Linked DNA regions of Homo sapiens: region 2 is linked to region 1. The links come from fine-mapping of genetic effects on gene expression. A gene starts in region 1. The other region holds a variant in brackets. All regions are shown on one strand. Distances are from middle to middle. Region 1 holds the start of METTL22 (methyltransferase 22, Kin17 lysine). Region 2 overlaps METTL22 (methyltransferase 22, Kin17 lysine).

The links.
Region 2: its variant is fine-mapped to the expression of METTL22 in whole blood (TOPMed, PIP 0.99).

What each region holds. Positions count from the first base shown.
Region 1 is chr16:8,616,821-8,625,151 of GRCh38, forward strand. It overlaps METTL22 (methyltransferase 22, Kin17 lysine), which reads left to right and starts at 4,878. Exons shown (of 11, transcript NM_024109.4): 1 at 4,878-4,955.
Region 2 is chr16:8,642,855-8,651,185 of GRCh38, forward strand. It overlaps METTL22 (methyltransferase 22, Kin17 lysine), which reads left to right. Exons shown (of 11, transcript NM_024109.4): 10 at 1,703-1,871; 11 at 3,254-6,800. The coding sequence ends at 3,289. Among named protein-coding and RNA genes, the nearest start is that of METTL22, 25 kb to the left of the region's middle. The variant C/T (reference allele first, on the strand shown) is at 3,295.

The DNA.
Region 1 (8,331 bases):
ACCAGGAGGCAGAGGTTGCAGTGAGCCGAGATTGCACCACTGCACTTCAGACTGGGTGACAGAGAGAGACCCTGTCTCAAAATAAATAAATAAATAACAAATAGGTCATTCCAGAGAGTGACAGATCTAAAAAGAAAATATAAGTTGCCAGGTGCAGTGGCTCATGCCTGTCATCCCAGAAATTTGGGAGGCCAAGGTGGGAGGATTGATTGAGCCCAGGAGTTCAAGACCAGCTTGGATAACACAGCGAGACCCCATTTCTACTTTTAAAAAATGAAATAAGAAAGAAGATTAAAGGGTGTGTAAAGGAGAGCTACTTGGGCAGATAGTAGGGGTCAACACATGATGGGATGGGCAGGGAAGGGCCAACTGAGCAGATAATATTTAAGCTATGGGTCGGGCACAGTGGCTCATGCCTGTAATCCCAGCACTCTGGGAGGCCAAGGTAGGTGGATCACCTGAGGTCAGGAGTCGGAGACCACCGTGGCCAACATGGCAAAACCCCGTTTCTACTAAAAATACAAAAATTAGCCAGGCGTGGTTGCTGGCGCCTGTAATCCCAGCTACTCGGGAGGCTGAGGCAGGAGAATTGCTTGAATCCAGGAGGCAGAGTTTGCAGTGAGTAAAGATCGCGTCACTGCACTCCAGCCTGGGTGACAGTGAGACTCTGTCTCAAAAAATAAAAATAAAATAAAATAAAAAATAAAAATAATTTAAGCTATGTTGGACGAGAAGGAACCAGTTGTGACGATGGAAACTGGGCTGAGAGTGGGCTTTCTGAGCCAAGGGGAATGCAAATAAAAAGACCAGTAGGCACAAATTAGCTAAAACCTTGTATTAGTCTCTTAACTAAATAAAACTGGGTGACTTTAACCAACAGACCTGCATTCCCGCACAGTTCTGGAGGCCACGAGTCCAAAATCAAAGTAGCAGCATGGCTGGGTCCTTCTGGAGGCTCTGAGGGAGAATCCGTTCCGCGTGTCTGTCCTGACGCATGGAGGCTGCCGGCAATCCTGGGCGATCCTTGGCTCTTACATGCCTCACCCCATTCTCCGCCTGACTCCACATTGTCTTCTTTCTGAGTCCTCTCCTCTTGTGATAAGGACAGCTGTCATTGGACTTAGGGCCTGCCCTAAATCCAGGATGATTTCAAGATCCTTAACTACTTGCATCTACAATGACCCTATTTCTTTTCTTTTTTTTTAATACAGGGTCTCTCTCTGTTGCCCAGGCTGGAGTACAGTGACGCAAACACCACTCACTGTGGCCTCAACCTCCTGGGCTCAAGTAATCCTCCCTCCTCTGCTTCCCAAGTAACTGGGAACATAGTCATGCACGAACATCCCCAGCTGATTTTTTAAAGCTTTTTTGTTTATTTTGCTTTATTCCTTTTTACAGCTGAATAATAATCCCTTGATGCATACACCACATTCTGCCTAGCTTGAGAAAACATATAATTGTGAGGGTTTTTTTATTTTACATAATTGATCTTATACAGTATGAATGGCACTGTAACTTATTTTGTTTTTTGTTTTTCATCTACCAATGTGACGTGGTGAAGTGAGTAAAACTGGTGGGTTCTTTAAAATATAACAGACACTGTCAGATTATCTCAAGAAATGGAAGGGAGTTATTGTCTGGAACTCTCCACGGGTGATATGCCACTCATTCTCACAACACGCCAAGAAAGGTATTATCAGTATTTGAGCCACTAGGAAATTAAGTTTCATAGAAGTAAAGCAATTGCCCAAGTACCAAGGATATGAAAAGCTCTTCAAAATTAGGTAGTGAATGGATGAATATAATTAATCAGTGGCCGAGCTGGGGATTTGAACTCAGCTCTGTGCTCTTGAAGGTCAACCTCCTGCCTCTGCACACAGAACCAGGAACCAGAGCGCAGACTGCTGTGCATTCAAAGCAGCTGCCGTGATATGCTGATGGGAGGCGGGGGCAGAATTATCATCACCCACTTTCAGCAGTCCTGGAGGACAAGCTCTCTCTCCAGGAGGACAAAATTTTCTGGGGCTGACTGGGAAAACACATCAAGCATTTGGTAAATGCACGACCTTTGGAGAAAGGGCTGTTCTGAATAACCCAGCTAATAATAATCACCCGACAGCAATTTCCTGCAAGCTGGTTTCTTAATACACATCTGGCAGTTCATCCGCCTTCCCTCTGCTGCAGACATGGTTTGTCATTAGTCCAGGTGGTGGGAGTGATGGACACTCCAGCGTGTGTGAGCATGCACCTTAACCCTTGCTTCGCCAAGTCTGGGGGAGACTCTCAAAGCAAAAGACCTGCCTGGGACACTAGGGAGGGCATTTAACCCTAAGGCTCCACCCAGCAGACTCACTGGGACATTTTGAAAATGTGAGTCTGAGGCCAAGTGTGGTGGCTCATGCCTGTAATCCCAGCACTTTGGGAGGCCAAGGCGGGCAGATCACGTGAGGTCAGGAGTTTGAGACCAGCCTGGCCAACATGGTGAAACCCCGTCTCTACTAAAAATACAAAAATTAGCTGGATGTGGTGGCACACGCCTGTAATCCCAGCTACTCAGGAGACTGAGGCAGGAGAATTGCTTGATCCAGGGAGGCAGAGGTTGCAGTGAGCTGAGATGGCGTCACTGCACTCCAGCCTGGTCGACAAATGGAGACTCTGTCAAAAAGAAAAAAGAAAAGAAAAGAAAACGTGAGTCTGCGTCTCACTGGCTAGGTAACACTGAGCAAGGCACTTCACCTCTCTGAGCTTCGGAATGGGTGTGAGAATGAAACAAAACCACAAGATGAAGGGGCCAGCAGTGTGCCTTGTTTATAACTGAGGCTCCGGAACTGAGGGCCCCCTCCCGCACTCCCCCAGCTACCATCTCTTTGCAGCCCTGCCAAGAAGGGCTGGCTTTCTTTCCCCTTACCTGGTGACCTATTACTGTGTTGCAAACCACCTCAAAATTTGTGGCAGAAATGATAACCCTTTTGGGGCCATCTGGGCTGCTATAACAGAATACCATACATGGGGTGGCTGATAAACACATTCATTTCTCATGGTTCTAGGGGCTGGAAAGTCCAAAATCAAGGCACTGGCAGATTCTGTGTCCAATTCTTGGTCATAGATGGCTGTCTTTTTGCCGTGTCCTCACATGACAGAAGAAGTGAGGCAGCTCTTTGGGGCCTCTTTTGTAGGGGCACTAATCCCCTATAAAAGATTATAGGTTTGACAAGAGGAGGAATGTGATCTTTTGATTTTTAAGGGTCATTCCCCCGGTTTAAATTTGAAGACAAAACTCCCAAGGGTGTGAACAATGCCTTCCTAGTGCCCTCCCCACCACTCAACATCCTCTGGGGATAACTAAGAGAACCCTCAGCGAACTAGAGAGAAAACTATGAATAGAATCTGGTCCCAAGACACCCAACTGGCTCTCTGTGTACTGTCCTGGGGGATTTCAGGAAACATAATCTGTTTCTTAAAAAAAAAAAAAAAAAAAATTCTTATTTGTGTCGCTTAGTCACCCTATCAACTCTCCACGTTTTATCATCAGTAACCATGAAATTGATGTTGATTTAATTCTATTTTGAAAAGAGAAAAAAAAGTAATTTAGACAAAGGTTGCCAGCTGAGGCCATGTGTGTGCGTGTGTGTATATGTGAACACACAGGGATATAGATTTTACATATGTGGACTTTACATATGTTCCTGTGTGTATATTTGTATGTTCACTGACATGTCTGAGAGTGAGCACCACTGTGTGTGTCTGGGCATGTCTGTGAACACGTCAGTGTGGTGTATATCCCTGGCAGCTCCCCATCTCACGCACAGTAAAATCCAAAGTTCTTAGAATGTCACAAAAGTTCTAACCCTGGCTACCTATGTATCCTCGTTTCCTGCGGCCCATCCCCTGGCTTACTCCATTGTGGCCAGGCTGACTTCCATGATGTCACTGAATATATAGATTGAGAAAAGGGCCAATATTATTGACTGTACTTTTTCTAAAAATGCAGTGACTCAGGCAAGAGACGTGAGAATCTGTGGTCTATCCTGCTCATCCTCTTCAGGGGATTCTTCTGAGGGCTGTGCTCAGTCACGGACTCAGAGGCTTTCTGAAATTCTGCAGGCAAGAAAAAACGAGCAAACATGGAGTCTTATGTTTGCCACTCTGTCTCACCCCCTTGGTGTTGGAAACTTGATGAGCATACGAATTAACGAAATCACTACCACCTAATGAAATCACTACCACCTATTAATAATAACAAGTACTGGCTGGGCGTGGTGGCTCATGCCTGTAATTTATGAGCTTTAGGAGGCCGAAGCAGGAGGACTGCTTGAAGCCAGGAGTTTGAGACCAGCCTGGGCAACACAACAAGATACAGTCTGTACAAAAAAAAAAAAAAATGGTGCCACGCAACTGTAGTCCCAGCTACTAGAGAGGCTGAAACAGGATTCCTTAAGCCCAGGAGTTCAAGGCTGCAGTGAGCTAAAATTGCGCCGCTGCACTCCAGCCTGGGTGACAGAGCAAGACCATCTCAAATAAACAAACAAACAAACAAACGAGTACTAAGAGCATGGATGACGGTAACACCCGTGATAATAAATACAGTAGCATGCTGGTTAAATAGCACCGGCTCTGATCCCACACCCCGGGTTCGAATCCAGGCTTTACCACTTAGTAGCTGGGAGAGTTATTTAACTCCTATTTAAGTCTTTTAGAGGAATGAGTTTAGCCACCTAGGCGGGTCCCCCCAGCAAACACGCCTCGCCCGCGACCAGAGCGAAGGCTACAGGTGCCCGCCGGCAACCCTCGGACGCATGCGCGGCCCGGGCAGGTAGGTGGAGCCACGGTGCGGGGCAGTCGGATGGTCGCACGCGGGGGCGGGGCCGCGCCTGCGCAGACCGCCTGTTATGGCGGCCGCCTAAGTCCCACAGAGACGGGAGTCGGGTGGGATCCCAGGCTGGGCCCCGCGGCGGGTAAGTGCCTGGGAGAGGCGGCGGGATAGGGTAGGGTGCAGGGAACCTCCTGGCGCCGAGCCTGACTTTGAAATCCGAGCTCCCACAGATCGGAGGCCCAGATCCCTAAGGCCCGACCCCACTCTTAGCGTCAGTTTCCCCTTCTCAACACGGGTGTTGGGGAAAGAAGTCCACGTCCTCACCTGGGTTTCCATCCTGGGTCCAGGCACCTCTCCTTCGGTTCTAGATTAGGAAGGGAGGGCAGTGCCCGACCTGTGACTGTTTTTTGAGAGGGCAATAGTTAACCCACAAGGGTGGCGTCAGGAAGGCGACAAGACAAAGAGAACGAGTAGCCCCACGGGGGACGTCCCCGGAGCCCCTCACTACCACTCTACGCACCGTGGCCAGGCCACGTCTTTCCTGCCCCCAGCCTGGGCCTTCACACCCTGCCCTCCCCAGCTCCTGGCCTAAATCGTCATGGGATCGCGCCAAATTATTGATTGTTGAGTGAGTTGCAGTTATCAGAAAGAAAGATGAGGAGGGAAGTTATTTCAACACCGTGATCCCAGCACACTGCTTATTTGGGACAACTGACTGGGGACCTATAGGAGAAGAAAGCTGGTAGCGTCTCAGTCTAGCCCCCACAGCCTTAGAAGAGCCAAGAACACGTTAGCTCCTGCTGCAGGGATGAGCCTGCAGCCCTATGGAGAGGTGGTGGGGCAGGTCCCCATCTGCAACCTGGGTCTCCTTTCTCAGCTCTGCCCAGTAAAGAGAGGAGCCCGAAGCCCATACAGACCCTGCATTTCCGGAAAGAGACTTTTCCTGACTAGAGAAACTGTTACCTTTTTTCTTTCTTCCCAGCATTCACTTTAATCATTATTATATTACTATAATGATAGTATTTACTATTGTTGCTTATTGAACGTTTACTATATGTCGTAAGCCCGAAAAGTGGTAATTGTCTCATATACTCCTCTGAGTATATGAGGGCCTGAGATAGGTTCAAGAGGGCCTCCTTATTCCCAGATAGCTGATTCTAGGGAAAGCCACTTAAAGGGAATCTCCTTCATCTGGAACTTACATTGCAGCGTACATTTCTTGGGAAGCCTGGTTGGGTTGAATTTAAAAATGGAAAATTCAACTAGAGATTAAGAATTTGAGTTTTTTTGTGTGTGTCTATACTTAAAATTTGGTGTGTAATATTATGCTCACTTTTGGAAAAAGCAAAGAACATTGATTTTTCTGGGATGTAAGTTTTCCAACAAAATTGCGCTATAGGCCATGCCTGGTGGCTCACACCTATAATCCCAGCACTTTGGGAGGCCAAGGTAGATGGATCTACCTTGGTCAGGAGTTCAAGACTAGCCTGGCCAACATGGCAAAACCCCATCTTTACTAAAAATACAAAAATTAGGTGGACATTGTGGTGCATGCCTGTAGTCCCAGTTACTCGGGACTCTGAGGTAGGATCACTTGAGCCCAGGAGGCGGAGGTTGTAGTGAGCCGAGATGGCACCACTGCACTCTAGCCTGGGCAACAGAGTGAGACTCTGTCTCAGAAAAAAAAAAAAAAATGCGCTATGGCAAAAAAAGAAATGGCATCCTTTGGTTCACTTTTGATTTTTACAGCAATATTAGAGAGGATCTTCCCCACCCCCTTCAAAAAAAACTGTATGTGAAAGTCCTCAGTTTTCCCCCAGGACATCTCTAAGTCCTGAGAGAGCTTGATCTGCCTTTGAAATGAGTGGTAGGTATAAGCTGTATTTTCTCTTCTGGAATCTGGTGTGGTTTTGCCAGTCCGATTGATTGAGTGTTGGCCTTCAGGTCCAGCATTTCTCCATCACTTTCAATGACACCATGAAATTCTGCATTGATTTGCCAGATTCACAGACTTTCTTTACAACCCACTTGCATTTTGATGGCTTTATGGTGTTGAGTAGGAAAGCTAGCATGGAGATGAATAAGGAATCATCTTTTTCTTAAAAATTTTTTTGTTGGGACAGCTTTTGCTGCCCCACAGCAACCACTTAAATGTAGGAACTCCAGCAGTGTACTGGGATCATTAGGACAGCCTGAGTCATGATGACCTCATTTTGCAGTTGAAGAAGTGGGGGCCCTGAAGATTTCATGACATCTACCCAGGTAGGAACAGCTCCTATAGGCAGTCAGGGGTTACAGGCAGGTTTGGGTCAAATACCTGAAACCAACCCCAGGACAAGGAGGTTGCTGGTGTTTTATTAACACCTACTGTGAGCCAAGGACTCTGCTCAGCAGTTTACCCACCCAGTAACACTGCGTGAGATTGTGGCTGAAGAAACAGATGCAGAGAGGCGAAGTGATTTTCCTGAAATCACATGGCTAGAAGGTGAGAAACCAGGGATCCCCACCTGGTCTGTCCAGCTTCAAAGCCCATCAGACTACTGCTGTTTGATGATGCTTTTTGATTAGGTGAAACGGTTGGAGGGAGGTCCCACCTGTTCTTGACCACTTTGCCTCAGCCATGGTTTTCCAAGTTTTAGTTATTAATGTGTCACCTGCATAATTTTGCCATATCTGTGTATCACCAGTGTAGTGACTCCCTTACTACTTTTCCTTTAAATCCACTCACTCTTTTTTTTTTTTTTTTAATTTCTTTTTGAGACAGGGTCTTGCTCTGCCACCCAGCCTGGAGTGCAGAGTGCAGTGACGCATTCTCAGCTCACTGCAACCCCTGCCTTTTGGTGTCAAGCGATCCTCCCACCTCAGCCTCCCAAGTAGCTGGGACTACCAGCGCGCGCCACGACACCCGCCTAATTCCACTCATCTTTTTAAATTCAGTAGCAGAGCTTTAAGCCAGGCATGATGGCTCACGCCTGTAATCCCAGCACTTTAGGAAGCTGATATGGGAGGATGGCTTGAGCCCAAGAATTTGAGACCAGCCTGGGAAACATAGTGAGACCCTTGTCTCTACAAAAAAAAAAAATTTAATGCCAAGTATGGTGGCATAGCTGTAGTCCTAACTATGAAGGAGGTTGAGGCAGGAGGATCGCGTGAAGTTTGAGGCTGCAGTGAGCCATGATTGTACCACTGCACTCCAGCCTGGGCAACAGAGCAAGCCCCTGTCTGTAAAAAGAAATGTTTAAAAATAAAACATTGTTTAAAATAGGAAAGCTTTATAACAACAAATGATGTGGGGACAGTTGATAACAGCTTCTAGAATAAAAAAGAAAGAGTAAAGGGCCATAACAACTAAATGCAAAGTGCAGATTGTGATTGGATACTGGTTTCTGGGGGAAAAAAAACCTCAAAGACCTTTGGGAGACAGATGGAGGAAATTGACTTTAATGCTATTAGGGAATTATTAATTAACTTAGATTTGCTAATGGTCTTATGATTATATAGGGAAATGCTCTTAGGGG
Region 2 (8,331 bases), 26 kb after region 1:
AATGCAGACTGTACTGGAACCTCAACGCTTGGCCAGCACACACTGTTGAGAGCTTCTCTTCCTGAATGTTCTCTCTGTGGTGCCGTCTGTCTCTTCAGCTCCCCCAGGTCTCTTTCTCTTGCTGAATCGGACAGCTCCTCACCCAACAGCCTCACCCAGACATTTCCACTAGAATATCCTGAAATGTTAGGTTCCATTTATTGAGTGCCCACCTTGTGATAGCTACACACATTCTCCTGTAATACTTAACAGTAGTCCACAGCTTTTCTGAAGATCGTTCGGAATCCACAGCAAAAGCTGTAAAACGAAACAGACTTCTTCACCCAGCAATTCAGCATCTGGAAATTCACACTCAGGGTTGTGTACAAAGCTGTATGTACTTGCATATTTATTGCAGTGTTACTTATACCAATAATACCGAGGGCTTGCTTTGAGGCACACACTGAGCAATAGCAATGTACAGACCTCATTTGGATCCTGATTTCATAAACTGTAAAGGAAAAACATCAGGACAGTTGGGAAAAGTTGAATACTGAATATTTGATGTTAAAGGGTGATTGTTAAACTTTAGTTGAAGAGGTCTTCATCTTCTTGAGACACACACTGACATTTCCAGCTTCACAGAGGAAATGGGTTGGTGTCTGGCATTTGCTTTTTAATAACTCAGTGAGGGCAGGGGGCCCCGGGAAGAGCCAAGGTGGCAGAGTGGCTGGAAGTGGACAGTGGCTGAAGCTGGTAATGGGTTCATTAGACAGTTTTGTTTTTTTTGTTTTTTTGAGGCAGAGTCTTGCCCTGTCAGCCCAGGCTGGAGTGTGATGGTGCGATCTCGGCTCAGCACAAGCGCCACCTCCCGGGTTCACACCATTCTCCTGTCTCAGCCTCCCAAGTAGCTGGGATTACAGGCATGCGTCACCACACCTGGCTAATTTTTGTATTTTTAGTAGAAACGGGGTTTCACCATGTCGTCCAGGCTGGTCTCAAACTCCTGACCTCAGGTGATCTGCCCTCCTCGGCCTCCCACAGTACTGAGATTACAGGTGGGAGCCACCACGCCCAGCATAGACTGTTCTTACTCCTGTTGCATGTCTGGAATTTTTCTTGATAAAAAAATTTGGAAAGAAAAGGGAAAAAGGCAAAGAGCTTTAATTTCAAGTGAAACCATCTTGTAGACTAAGGTTTTGAAAGGCAAGTGGCAGGGTTGGGAGACCTGTTTCTGAAGGTGCTCACTCTCTGAAATCTCTCAGACCCCAGCTTCCCAGCAGTTTTCTCTCTGTTCTCTGTGCTCCCGGAGTCCTCTGCACCGCCCCCTGCCACTGCCTCTCATTCATTCATTTCTCAGATAGTTATGCGCAGCTCCAGGCACCAGATTCTGTGCTGGGTGCAGGCAGGACCTGGAGGGCGTCCTCAAGTGTTGATCTGCAGGACTGTCTTGATCTTTCCAGCAGTGTCATTGTGGGCACGTGACCTGAGCTTTCTGAGCCTGTTTCCACATCTGTAAAGTGCTATCCACTTCCACCTCCTGGGCTGTCGTGCAGATGTAGGAAGGAATTGCACTCACACACTCAGCATGAGACAGGCGCTCAGTAAAAGCCCGTCCAGGGGATATGAGATCAGTGAGGGATAGGAAAGCAAGGTGGGCAGAAACAGCAAAACCCTTCCCATTGATGATGGCAGTTTGTGCGTCCGACTGGCTGGTTTGCAGGCTCAACTTCACATTGAGACACTTGGACGTCACATGTGAAGCCTACGATCACTTCCGCTCCTGCCTGCACGCGCTGGAGCAGCTCGCAGATGGCAAGCTGCGCTTCGTGGTGGAGCCCGTGGAGGCCTCCTTCCCACAGCTCCTGGTTTACGAGCGCCTCCAGCAACTGGTAGGTCCAGGCCCCGAAGCAGGGCCGTTGGTTGCTTTACTGTGAAGCGGGTGACTCCAGGGCAAAGAGGTGATGAAGCAAGCCCTCCAAGCACAGGCTCCACCCTAGTCCTGCAGGGGGTGAAGCCTGCGTGCCTGGCACCATCTGTAGTGGAACCTGTTGGGGGAGCTACATCCTGTTCTTAGCAGCCACCATGTCTGGAGACGGGCCTACAGGCGAACCTTGTCTTTTACTTTATAGCACATATTCCCCCCGTTGGACAGTTCAGACTCCAGAGGAGGCAAGACCGAGGCAGAGGTTGTTTGGGGAACAGGAAGTCAGTGGAGGGAAGTTTGTGGGTTGCAGATCTTGGTGCAGGCGCCCCGCTGTGGTGGCCGCTGCTCACATCTTCACTGTGGAAGGATACCAGCCCCTCTCGGACTGAACTGGCTTTTCTATTAACTGGAGTCCAAAGATTGAGAATTAACTTCTTTTGTTCTGTTTGCCTTTTGGCTGTGGCCTCCCTTTCTCTATGTCTGTGGAGACCCGGGCCTAGTTCTAAGGAAAAAGGGAGGAAGAGGGAGTCACGAGGAGCTGCCGCCCTTGCACTCTGTCTCGCGTCCTGAGGGAGGGCAGCATGGAATTCGTGTGGTTTTGTGTGCGAGGAGGATCTTGTATTTATTGCTCTGCCACTTCTGGGCAGCATTAAGAGTAGCGTCACATGACCAAGAACACACATTTCTTACAAGTCAGCAGCCCCAATACATGATGCCTAAGACGTCCCAAAAAGGCCAGGTACGGTGGCTCCCACCTGTAATCCCAGCACTCTGGGAGGCCATGGTCGGAGGGTTGCTTGAAGCTAGGAGTTCGAGACCAGCCTGGGCATCACAGACCCTATCTCGACAAAAATCAAGAAAAAAAATTAGCCATGCATGGTGGTGCACACCTGTGGTCCCAGCTACTCTGGAAGCTGAGGTGGGAGGATTGCTTGAGCCCAGAAGTTCAAGGCTGCAGCAAGCTGTGATGGTGCCACTGCACTCCAGACTGGGCAACAGAATGAGATCCTGTCTCTAAAATAAAATTGTTTATAAAGATCTCCCCCAAAATGGAGAGATACGGCAACTCACTGCTATTCTGGTCTCTTCTGATTGTTTGACATCCTCTGATGCACCTTCCGTTAATGCTGGGACTTCATCCATCCAGCCTCTCTGCCACAGTAAAATAGAACAGCCCAGAGCAACAAAGAAAGGAGGAAGCCGCCCGTCCGCTCCTGCCCCAGCTCGCCTGCTCCGTGGCTGACGTGTTGTCTAACTACTCTCCTTGGTGAATCACTTTCCTTAATGAAATTGTGATGCTCTTGTATGTGCACTTCAGAAACCTGTTCTTTTCTCTGTTTGCTGCAGGAGCTCTGGAAGATCATCGCAGAACCAGTAACATGACCCAT[C/T]GCCTCCACAAGGCGCGGCGTCTCGACTGTTCTTAGAGTGTATTTCTAGTAAAATCAGAAGCTCACCAAAGCAACATGCTTGAGATTTTGTCATTTTAAAAATATGGTTACACGTACCTTAGATGACCCAAGATGGTTTTCTGGGGTCTGTCCCTGCCTCCCAGTTGTAGCCAGAGAAGGTTGTTGCTGTGGGCTGGAGGTCACTTTAGTTGCCTGTTTCTCATGGTTGTGATGTGTGCTCCAGGGTCAAGCCGAGCCACGTTCCTTCTCAGCTCAGTTCCACCCACGTCAGTCATTTCAGCTGTGTGCTTTACTTGCGGTTGCGGCCCTGGCTGTGAGGTGGATTCTTGTACTGCCCTCTGTCAGCTGTTTACAGATGGGTTGACTACCACTGCCAGTATTGCCATCATATTGCCGCTCGGCACAAAAGCCTCATTTCCTCCCAGGGTTGGGTATGCTCCACCCCATCACTCTGGTGAGGGCCCCATGAGAAGGAAGAGGCAGGAGCTGGCGCCAGGAATGGACTGGCATTGGCCTTTGTATTTAATTTTAACTCTTTATCACCCAAATCAGGTACGTTTGGAATAAACCTAAGAGCCACTCTTTGGGGTCATGTGCAGCTGACCAGGGTTTGTGCAGTGATCTTCCTCAGAGGTGTTCCCTTCCGCCTGGACTCATTTTCCCTCCGCCCCTTGGTCTCTCTGTCTTATCACGTGTGTACATGTCTGTCTGTCTGGTTTTTTATCTTCTCCATCTGTGCCTCTCTCCTCCCATCTCCACCCCTTCCTGTCATCCTCTATGTCCCACTGTCTCTCTCCTTCTCTCCAGTTTTGGTCCCATCTTCCTGCTACCCTTGGCCCTCCCTGCAGCCCCTTTCCCCTGCCTTGCTGCTGCCGCACACTTTGCACCAGGGCCTTTCATGGCCCCTTTCCGCCTCCCTTGCAGCTCAGGTTTCCTGGCTTCTCCATGCACTGTCCCTGCCCACACTCGCTTCTCCCCAAGCTCCCAGGTTCCATCCCTAGGCCCATCATACCCCTGGCATTGGCTAATCCCTCATGCCAGGGGCCAGGCACTTGCAAGTCTAACTTCATCTTCCCAACAAATTTAGGAGGTCCGCAGCCTTGTGATACCCACATTACAGCGGAGAAGACTGAGGTCCAAAAAGGAAAAAGTCTCCATGAGGTCAGGGACCTTGTTTGTCTTAAATATCACTACATCCCTGCTGTATGGTCTGGCAAACAGTAGATGCTCAACACATATTGTTGAATGAATTGCTAATGTAAGTTACTAATTAGGTCATTATTTCCTATTTGTGAGTGATTTTGCCTCCAGGAACATTTGGCAGTGCCTGGAGACATTTTCGGTGGTCACAAGTAGGGGAGACGGGTGCCACCAGTATCCAGTGGGTGAGGCCAGAGATGCTGCTGAACGTTCTATAATGCGGTAATCACGGAGCATCCCCCACAACACAAAATGATCCAGCCCAAAATGTGAGTAGCGCCGAGGCGGAGAAATCCTGACTTGGAAGAAGAAAGCCAAGTACTTTAGAGAAGAAAAACGGTCTCAGCTGAACCTGTAGTGAGAGCATGCAGGAGAGTGACCTCACCCTGCCCCTCTGGGAGCAAGAAGAAAACCTATGCATGTACGTTATTATAAATCTTCAAAGAACCTAAAAGGCAGAAGTGATCCCTATTTTGCACATGAGAAATCCAAAATTCAGAGAGGTTCAGCAACTTGCCCAACATCACACAGCAACCAAGGGCAGAGTCAGGTTTAGAGCCCATGTCCACCCATGTCCATCTGACTCCTGAGCCTGTGCTTTTCCCACATTCCCGCTGGAGCAGCAGCAGCATCTGTGGCATCACGTGGATGCTGGTTAGAAATGCAACATCAGGCTGAGCATGTTGGCTCACTCCTGCAATCCCGATACTTTGGGAGGCCAAGGCAGGAGGATCAATTAAGGCCAGGAGTTCAACCAGCCTGGACAACAAAGCAAGACCCCATCTCTATTAAAAATTAAACAGCCAATTAGTCTGGCATGGTGGTTTGCGCCTGCAGTCCCAGCTACTTGGGAGGCCGAGGCAGGAGAATCGCTTGAACCTGGGAGGCGAAGGTTGCAGTGAGCCAAGATCGCAACACTGCCCTCCAGCCTGGGCAACAGAGCCAGACATCTCAAAAATTAAAAAGCCAGGCGAGGTGCCGGGCATGGTGGCTCATGCCTGTCATCCCAGCACTTTGGGAGGCCGAGGCGGGTGGATCACCCAAAGTCAGGAGTTCAAGACCAGCCTGGCCAACATGGTGAAACCCTGCCTCTACTAAAAATACAAAATTAGCCGGGTGTGGTGGCTCATGCCTGTAATCCCAGCTACTTGGGAGGCTGAGGCAGGAGAATCACTTGAACCCAGGAGGCAGAGGTTGCAGTGAGCCAAGACCATGCCATTGCACTCTAGCCTGGGCAACAAGAGCAAAACTCCATCTCAAAAAAAAAAAAAAGCCAGGCGTAGTGGCTAACGCCTGTAGTCCCAACTACTCAGAAGGCAAGGTGAGAGGATTGCTTGAGCCTAAGAATTTGAGGCTGCAGTGAGCCATGACTGCACCATTGCACTCTGGCCTGGGCAACAGAGAGAGATCCTGTCTCCAAAAAAGAAGAAAAGTATCAAGCCTCAGCTCAGGACGTGATTCCGAATCTGCATCTCAACGAGACCCTGGGTGATTTGTGTGCACAGTAGTTTGAGAAGCTCTGGGGCCTACCACATAGCCCTCAACCTATTGCTGTTTTCTAAAATTCCTACACAAACTCCGTTCCTGACAGACTTGCCATAATGGAGCAGCATTGCAGATCACTACAGGGAATATTAATAATGAGTCTTCAAATCAGAACCCCACTAGACAGAGCCAACAACTGGCAGTACGTCAGCACTAATGGTGACAATTTCCTAGCACTCCTGGGTACAAGTCCATAAATGTAATTGGCACCAAGCAATAGAGTTGTCACAGCTTTCACCTGCCGCATTAGGGCAAACTGCTTTTATGTCTAAACCACTGGGCCTGAAAGCTTCCTCTAAGTAGAGCCTGGAATTAATCTTGATCCACTGTAATTCAAAGTATCGTCAGATTTTCATTTCCCAGAGTGGGAGCGCGCCCCCATTGCCATGTTTTATGGCCTTGTTTGAGCCTCTACAAGTGCTTGTTTGGCAGCGATATTCAGAATCACCAAACCATGGGGATGTTCTGCTAGGTAATTAGCCCAGGCCAGTGGACTCAATTTTTTTATAACATTTTCAGAAAAATATGTGACCCAAGGAGGGGACTTGGCTGTTCAGCTGCAGCCTGCATGGGAAAGAACTGTTAAAACCAACAAAGCCAGGCACAGTGGCTCACACCTGTAATTCCAGCATTTTGGGAGGCCGAGGTGGGTGGATCACCTAAGGTCAGGAGTTCGAGACCAGCCTGGCCAACATGGTGAAACCCCGTCTCTACTAAAAATACAAAAAAAAAAAAAAAAATTAGCTGGGCGTGGTGGCGGTCGCCTGTAATCCCAGCTACTTAGGAGGCTGAGGCAGGAGAATCTCTACAACCCGGGAGGTGGAGGTTGCAGTGAGCCAAGACTGCGCCATTGCACTCTACCCTGGGCAACAAGAATGAAACTCCGTCTCAAAAGAAATTAAAAAAAAAAAACCATTAGTGAAACTGTGGTCCCCAAAGCTTCTCAAACTAGTATGCACACGAATCACTTGGGATCTTGTCAAAATACAGATTCTGACTCAGGCCCTGGATGTGGCCTGATGCTGCAGTTTAACAAGCTCCCGGGTGATGCTGATGATGCTCGTCTGTGGGCCACACTGTGAGGAGTGAAGTTGCAACATGTCATCCCTGGTTAAGAGCACAAACTCTGGGTTGGATGTGGTGGCTCATACCTGTGATCCCAGCACTTTGGGAGGCAAAGGCAGGAGGATTACTTGAGGACAGGAGTTTGAGATCAGCCTGGGCAACATACAGAGACCCTATCTCTAAAAAACTTTTTTTTAATTAGCCAGGTGTGTCATGCACCTGTACTCCCAGCTACTCAGGAGGCTGGGTCGGGAGCATCGCCTAAGCGAAGGAATTCTAGGCTGCAGTGAACTGTGATTGTGCCACTGCACTACACCCTCACAGCCTTACAGACAGAGACGCTATTTCTAAAGAAAAAAAAACCCACCAACTCCGGAGTTGAGCAAGCCAGGGTTTAAATCCTGCCTCTGCTGTGTAACAGCAATGACCTTGGACAAATGACCTAGCCTCTCTGAACCTGAGTTTCCTCACCTGTAAAATAGTAAAACTTCTTGATAGGTTGGTGAATGGGTACAAACTTAGGGAAGAAATACCTTCTAATGTTTGGTAGCAGACTAGGGTGGCTACAGTTAGCAACAATATATTGTGTATTTCAAAGTTGCTAGAAGAGAGAACTTGAAATGTTCCCAACACATAAAATTATAAATTCTCAAGGTGGTGAATACCTCAAATACCCTGGCTTGATAATTACACATTCTGTGTATATAAAACACATTCATATGCACCCCATAATATGCAAAATTTCATTTATCAATAAATGAAAAAAAGCCAGATGTGGCTCATGCGTGTAATCCCGGCACTTTGGGAGGCCAAGGCAAATGGATCACCTGAGGTCAGGAGTTCAAGACCAGTCTGGCCAACATGACAAAACCCCGTATCTACTAAAAATACAAAAAAATAGCTGGGCATGGTGGCGTGCCTGTAATTCCAGCTACTCTGGAGGCTGAGGCAGGAGAATTGGAACCTGAGAGGTGGAGTTTGCAGTGAGCTAAGATTGCACCATTGCACTCCAGCCTGGGTGACAGAGCGAGACTCCGTCTCAAAAAATAATATAAATAAATAAATGGGAAAAAAAGAGGGTAAGAATTCTTTCTTCACAGAATTATTGTAAAGATCATACTAAATGGGCCAGGCGCAGTGGCTCATACCTGTAATCCCAGCACTTTGGGAGGCCGAGGTGGGCAGATCATGAGGTCAGGAAATCAA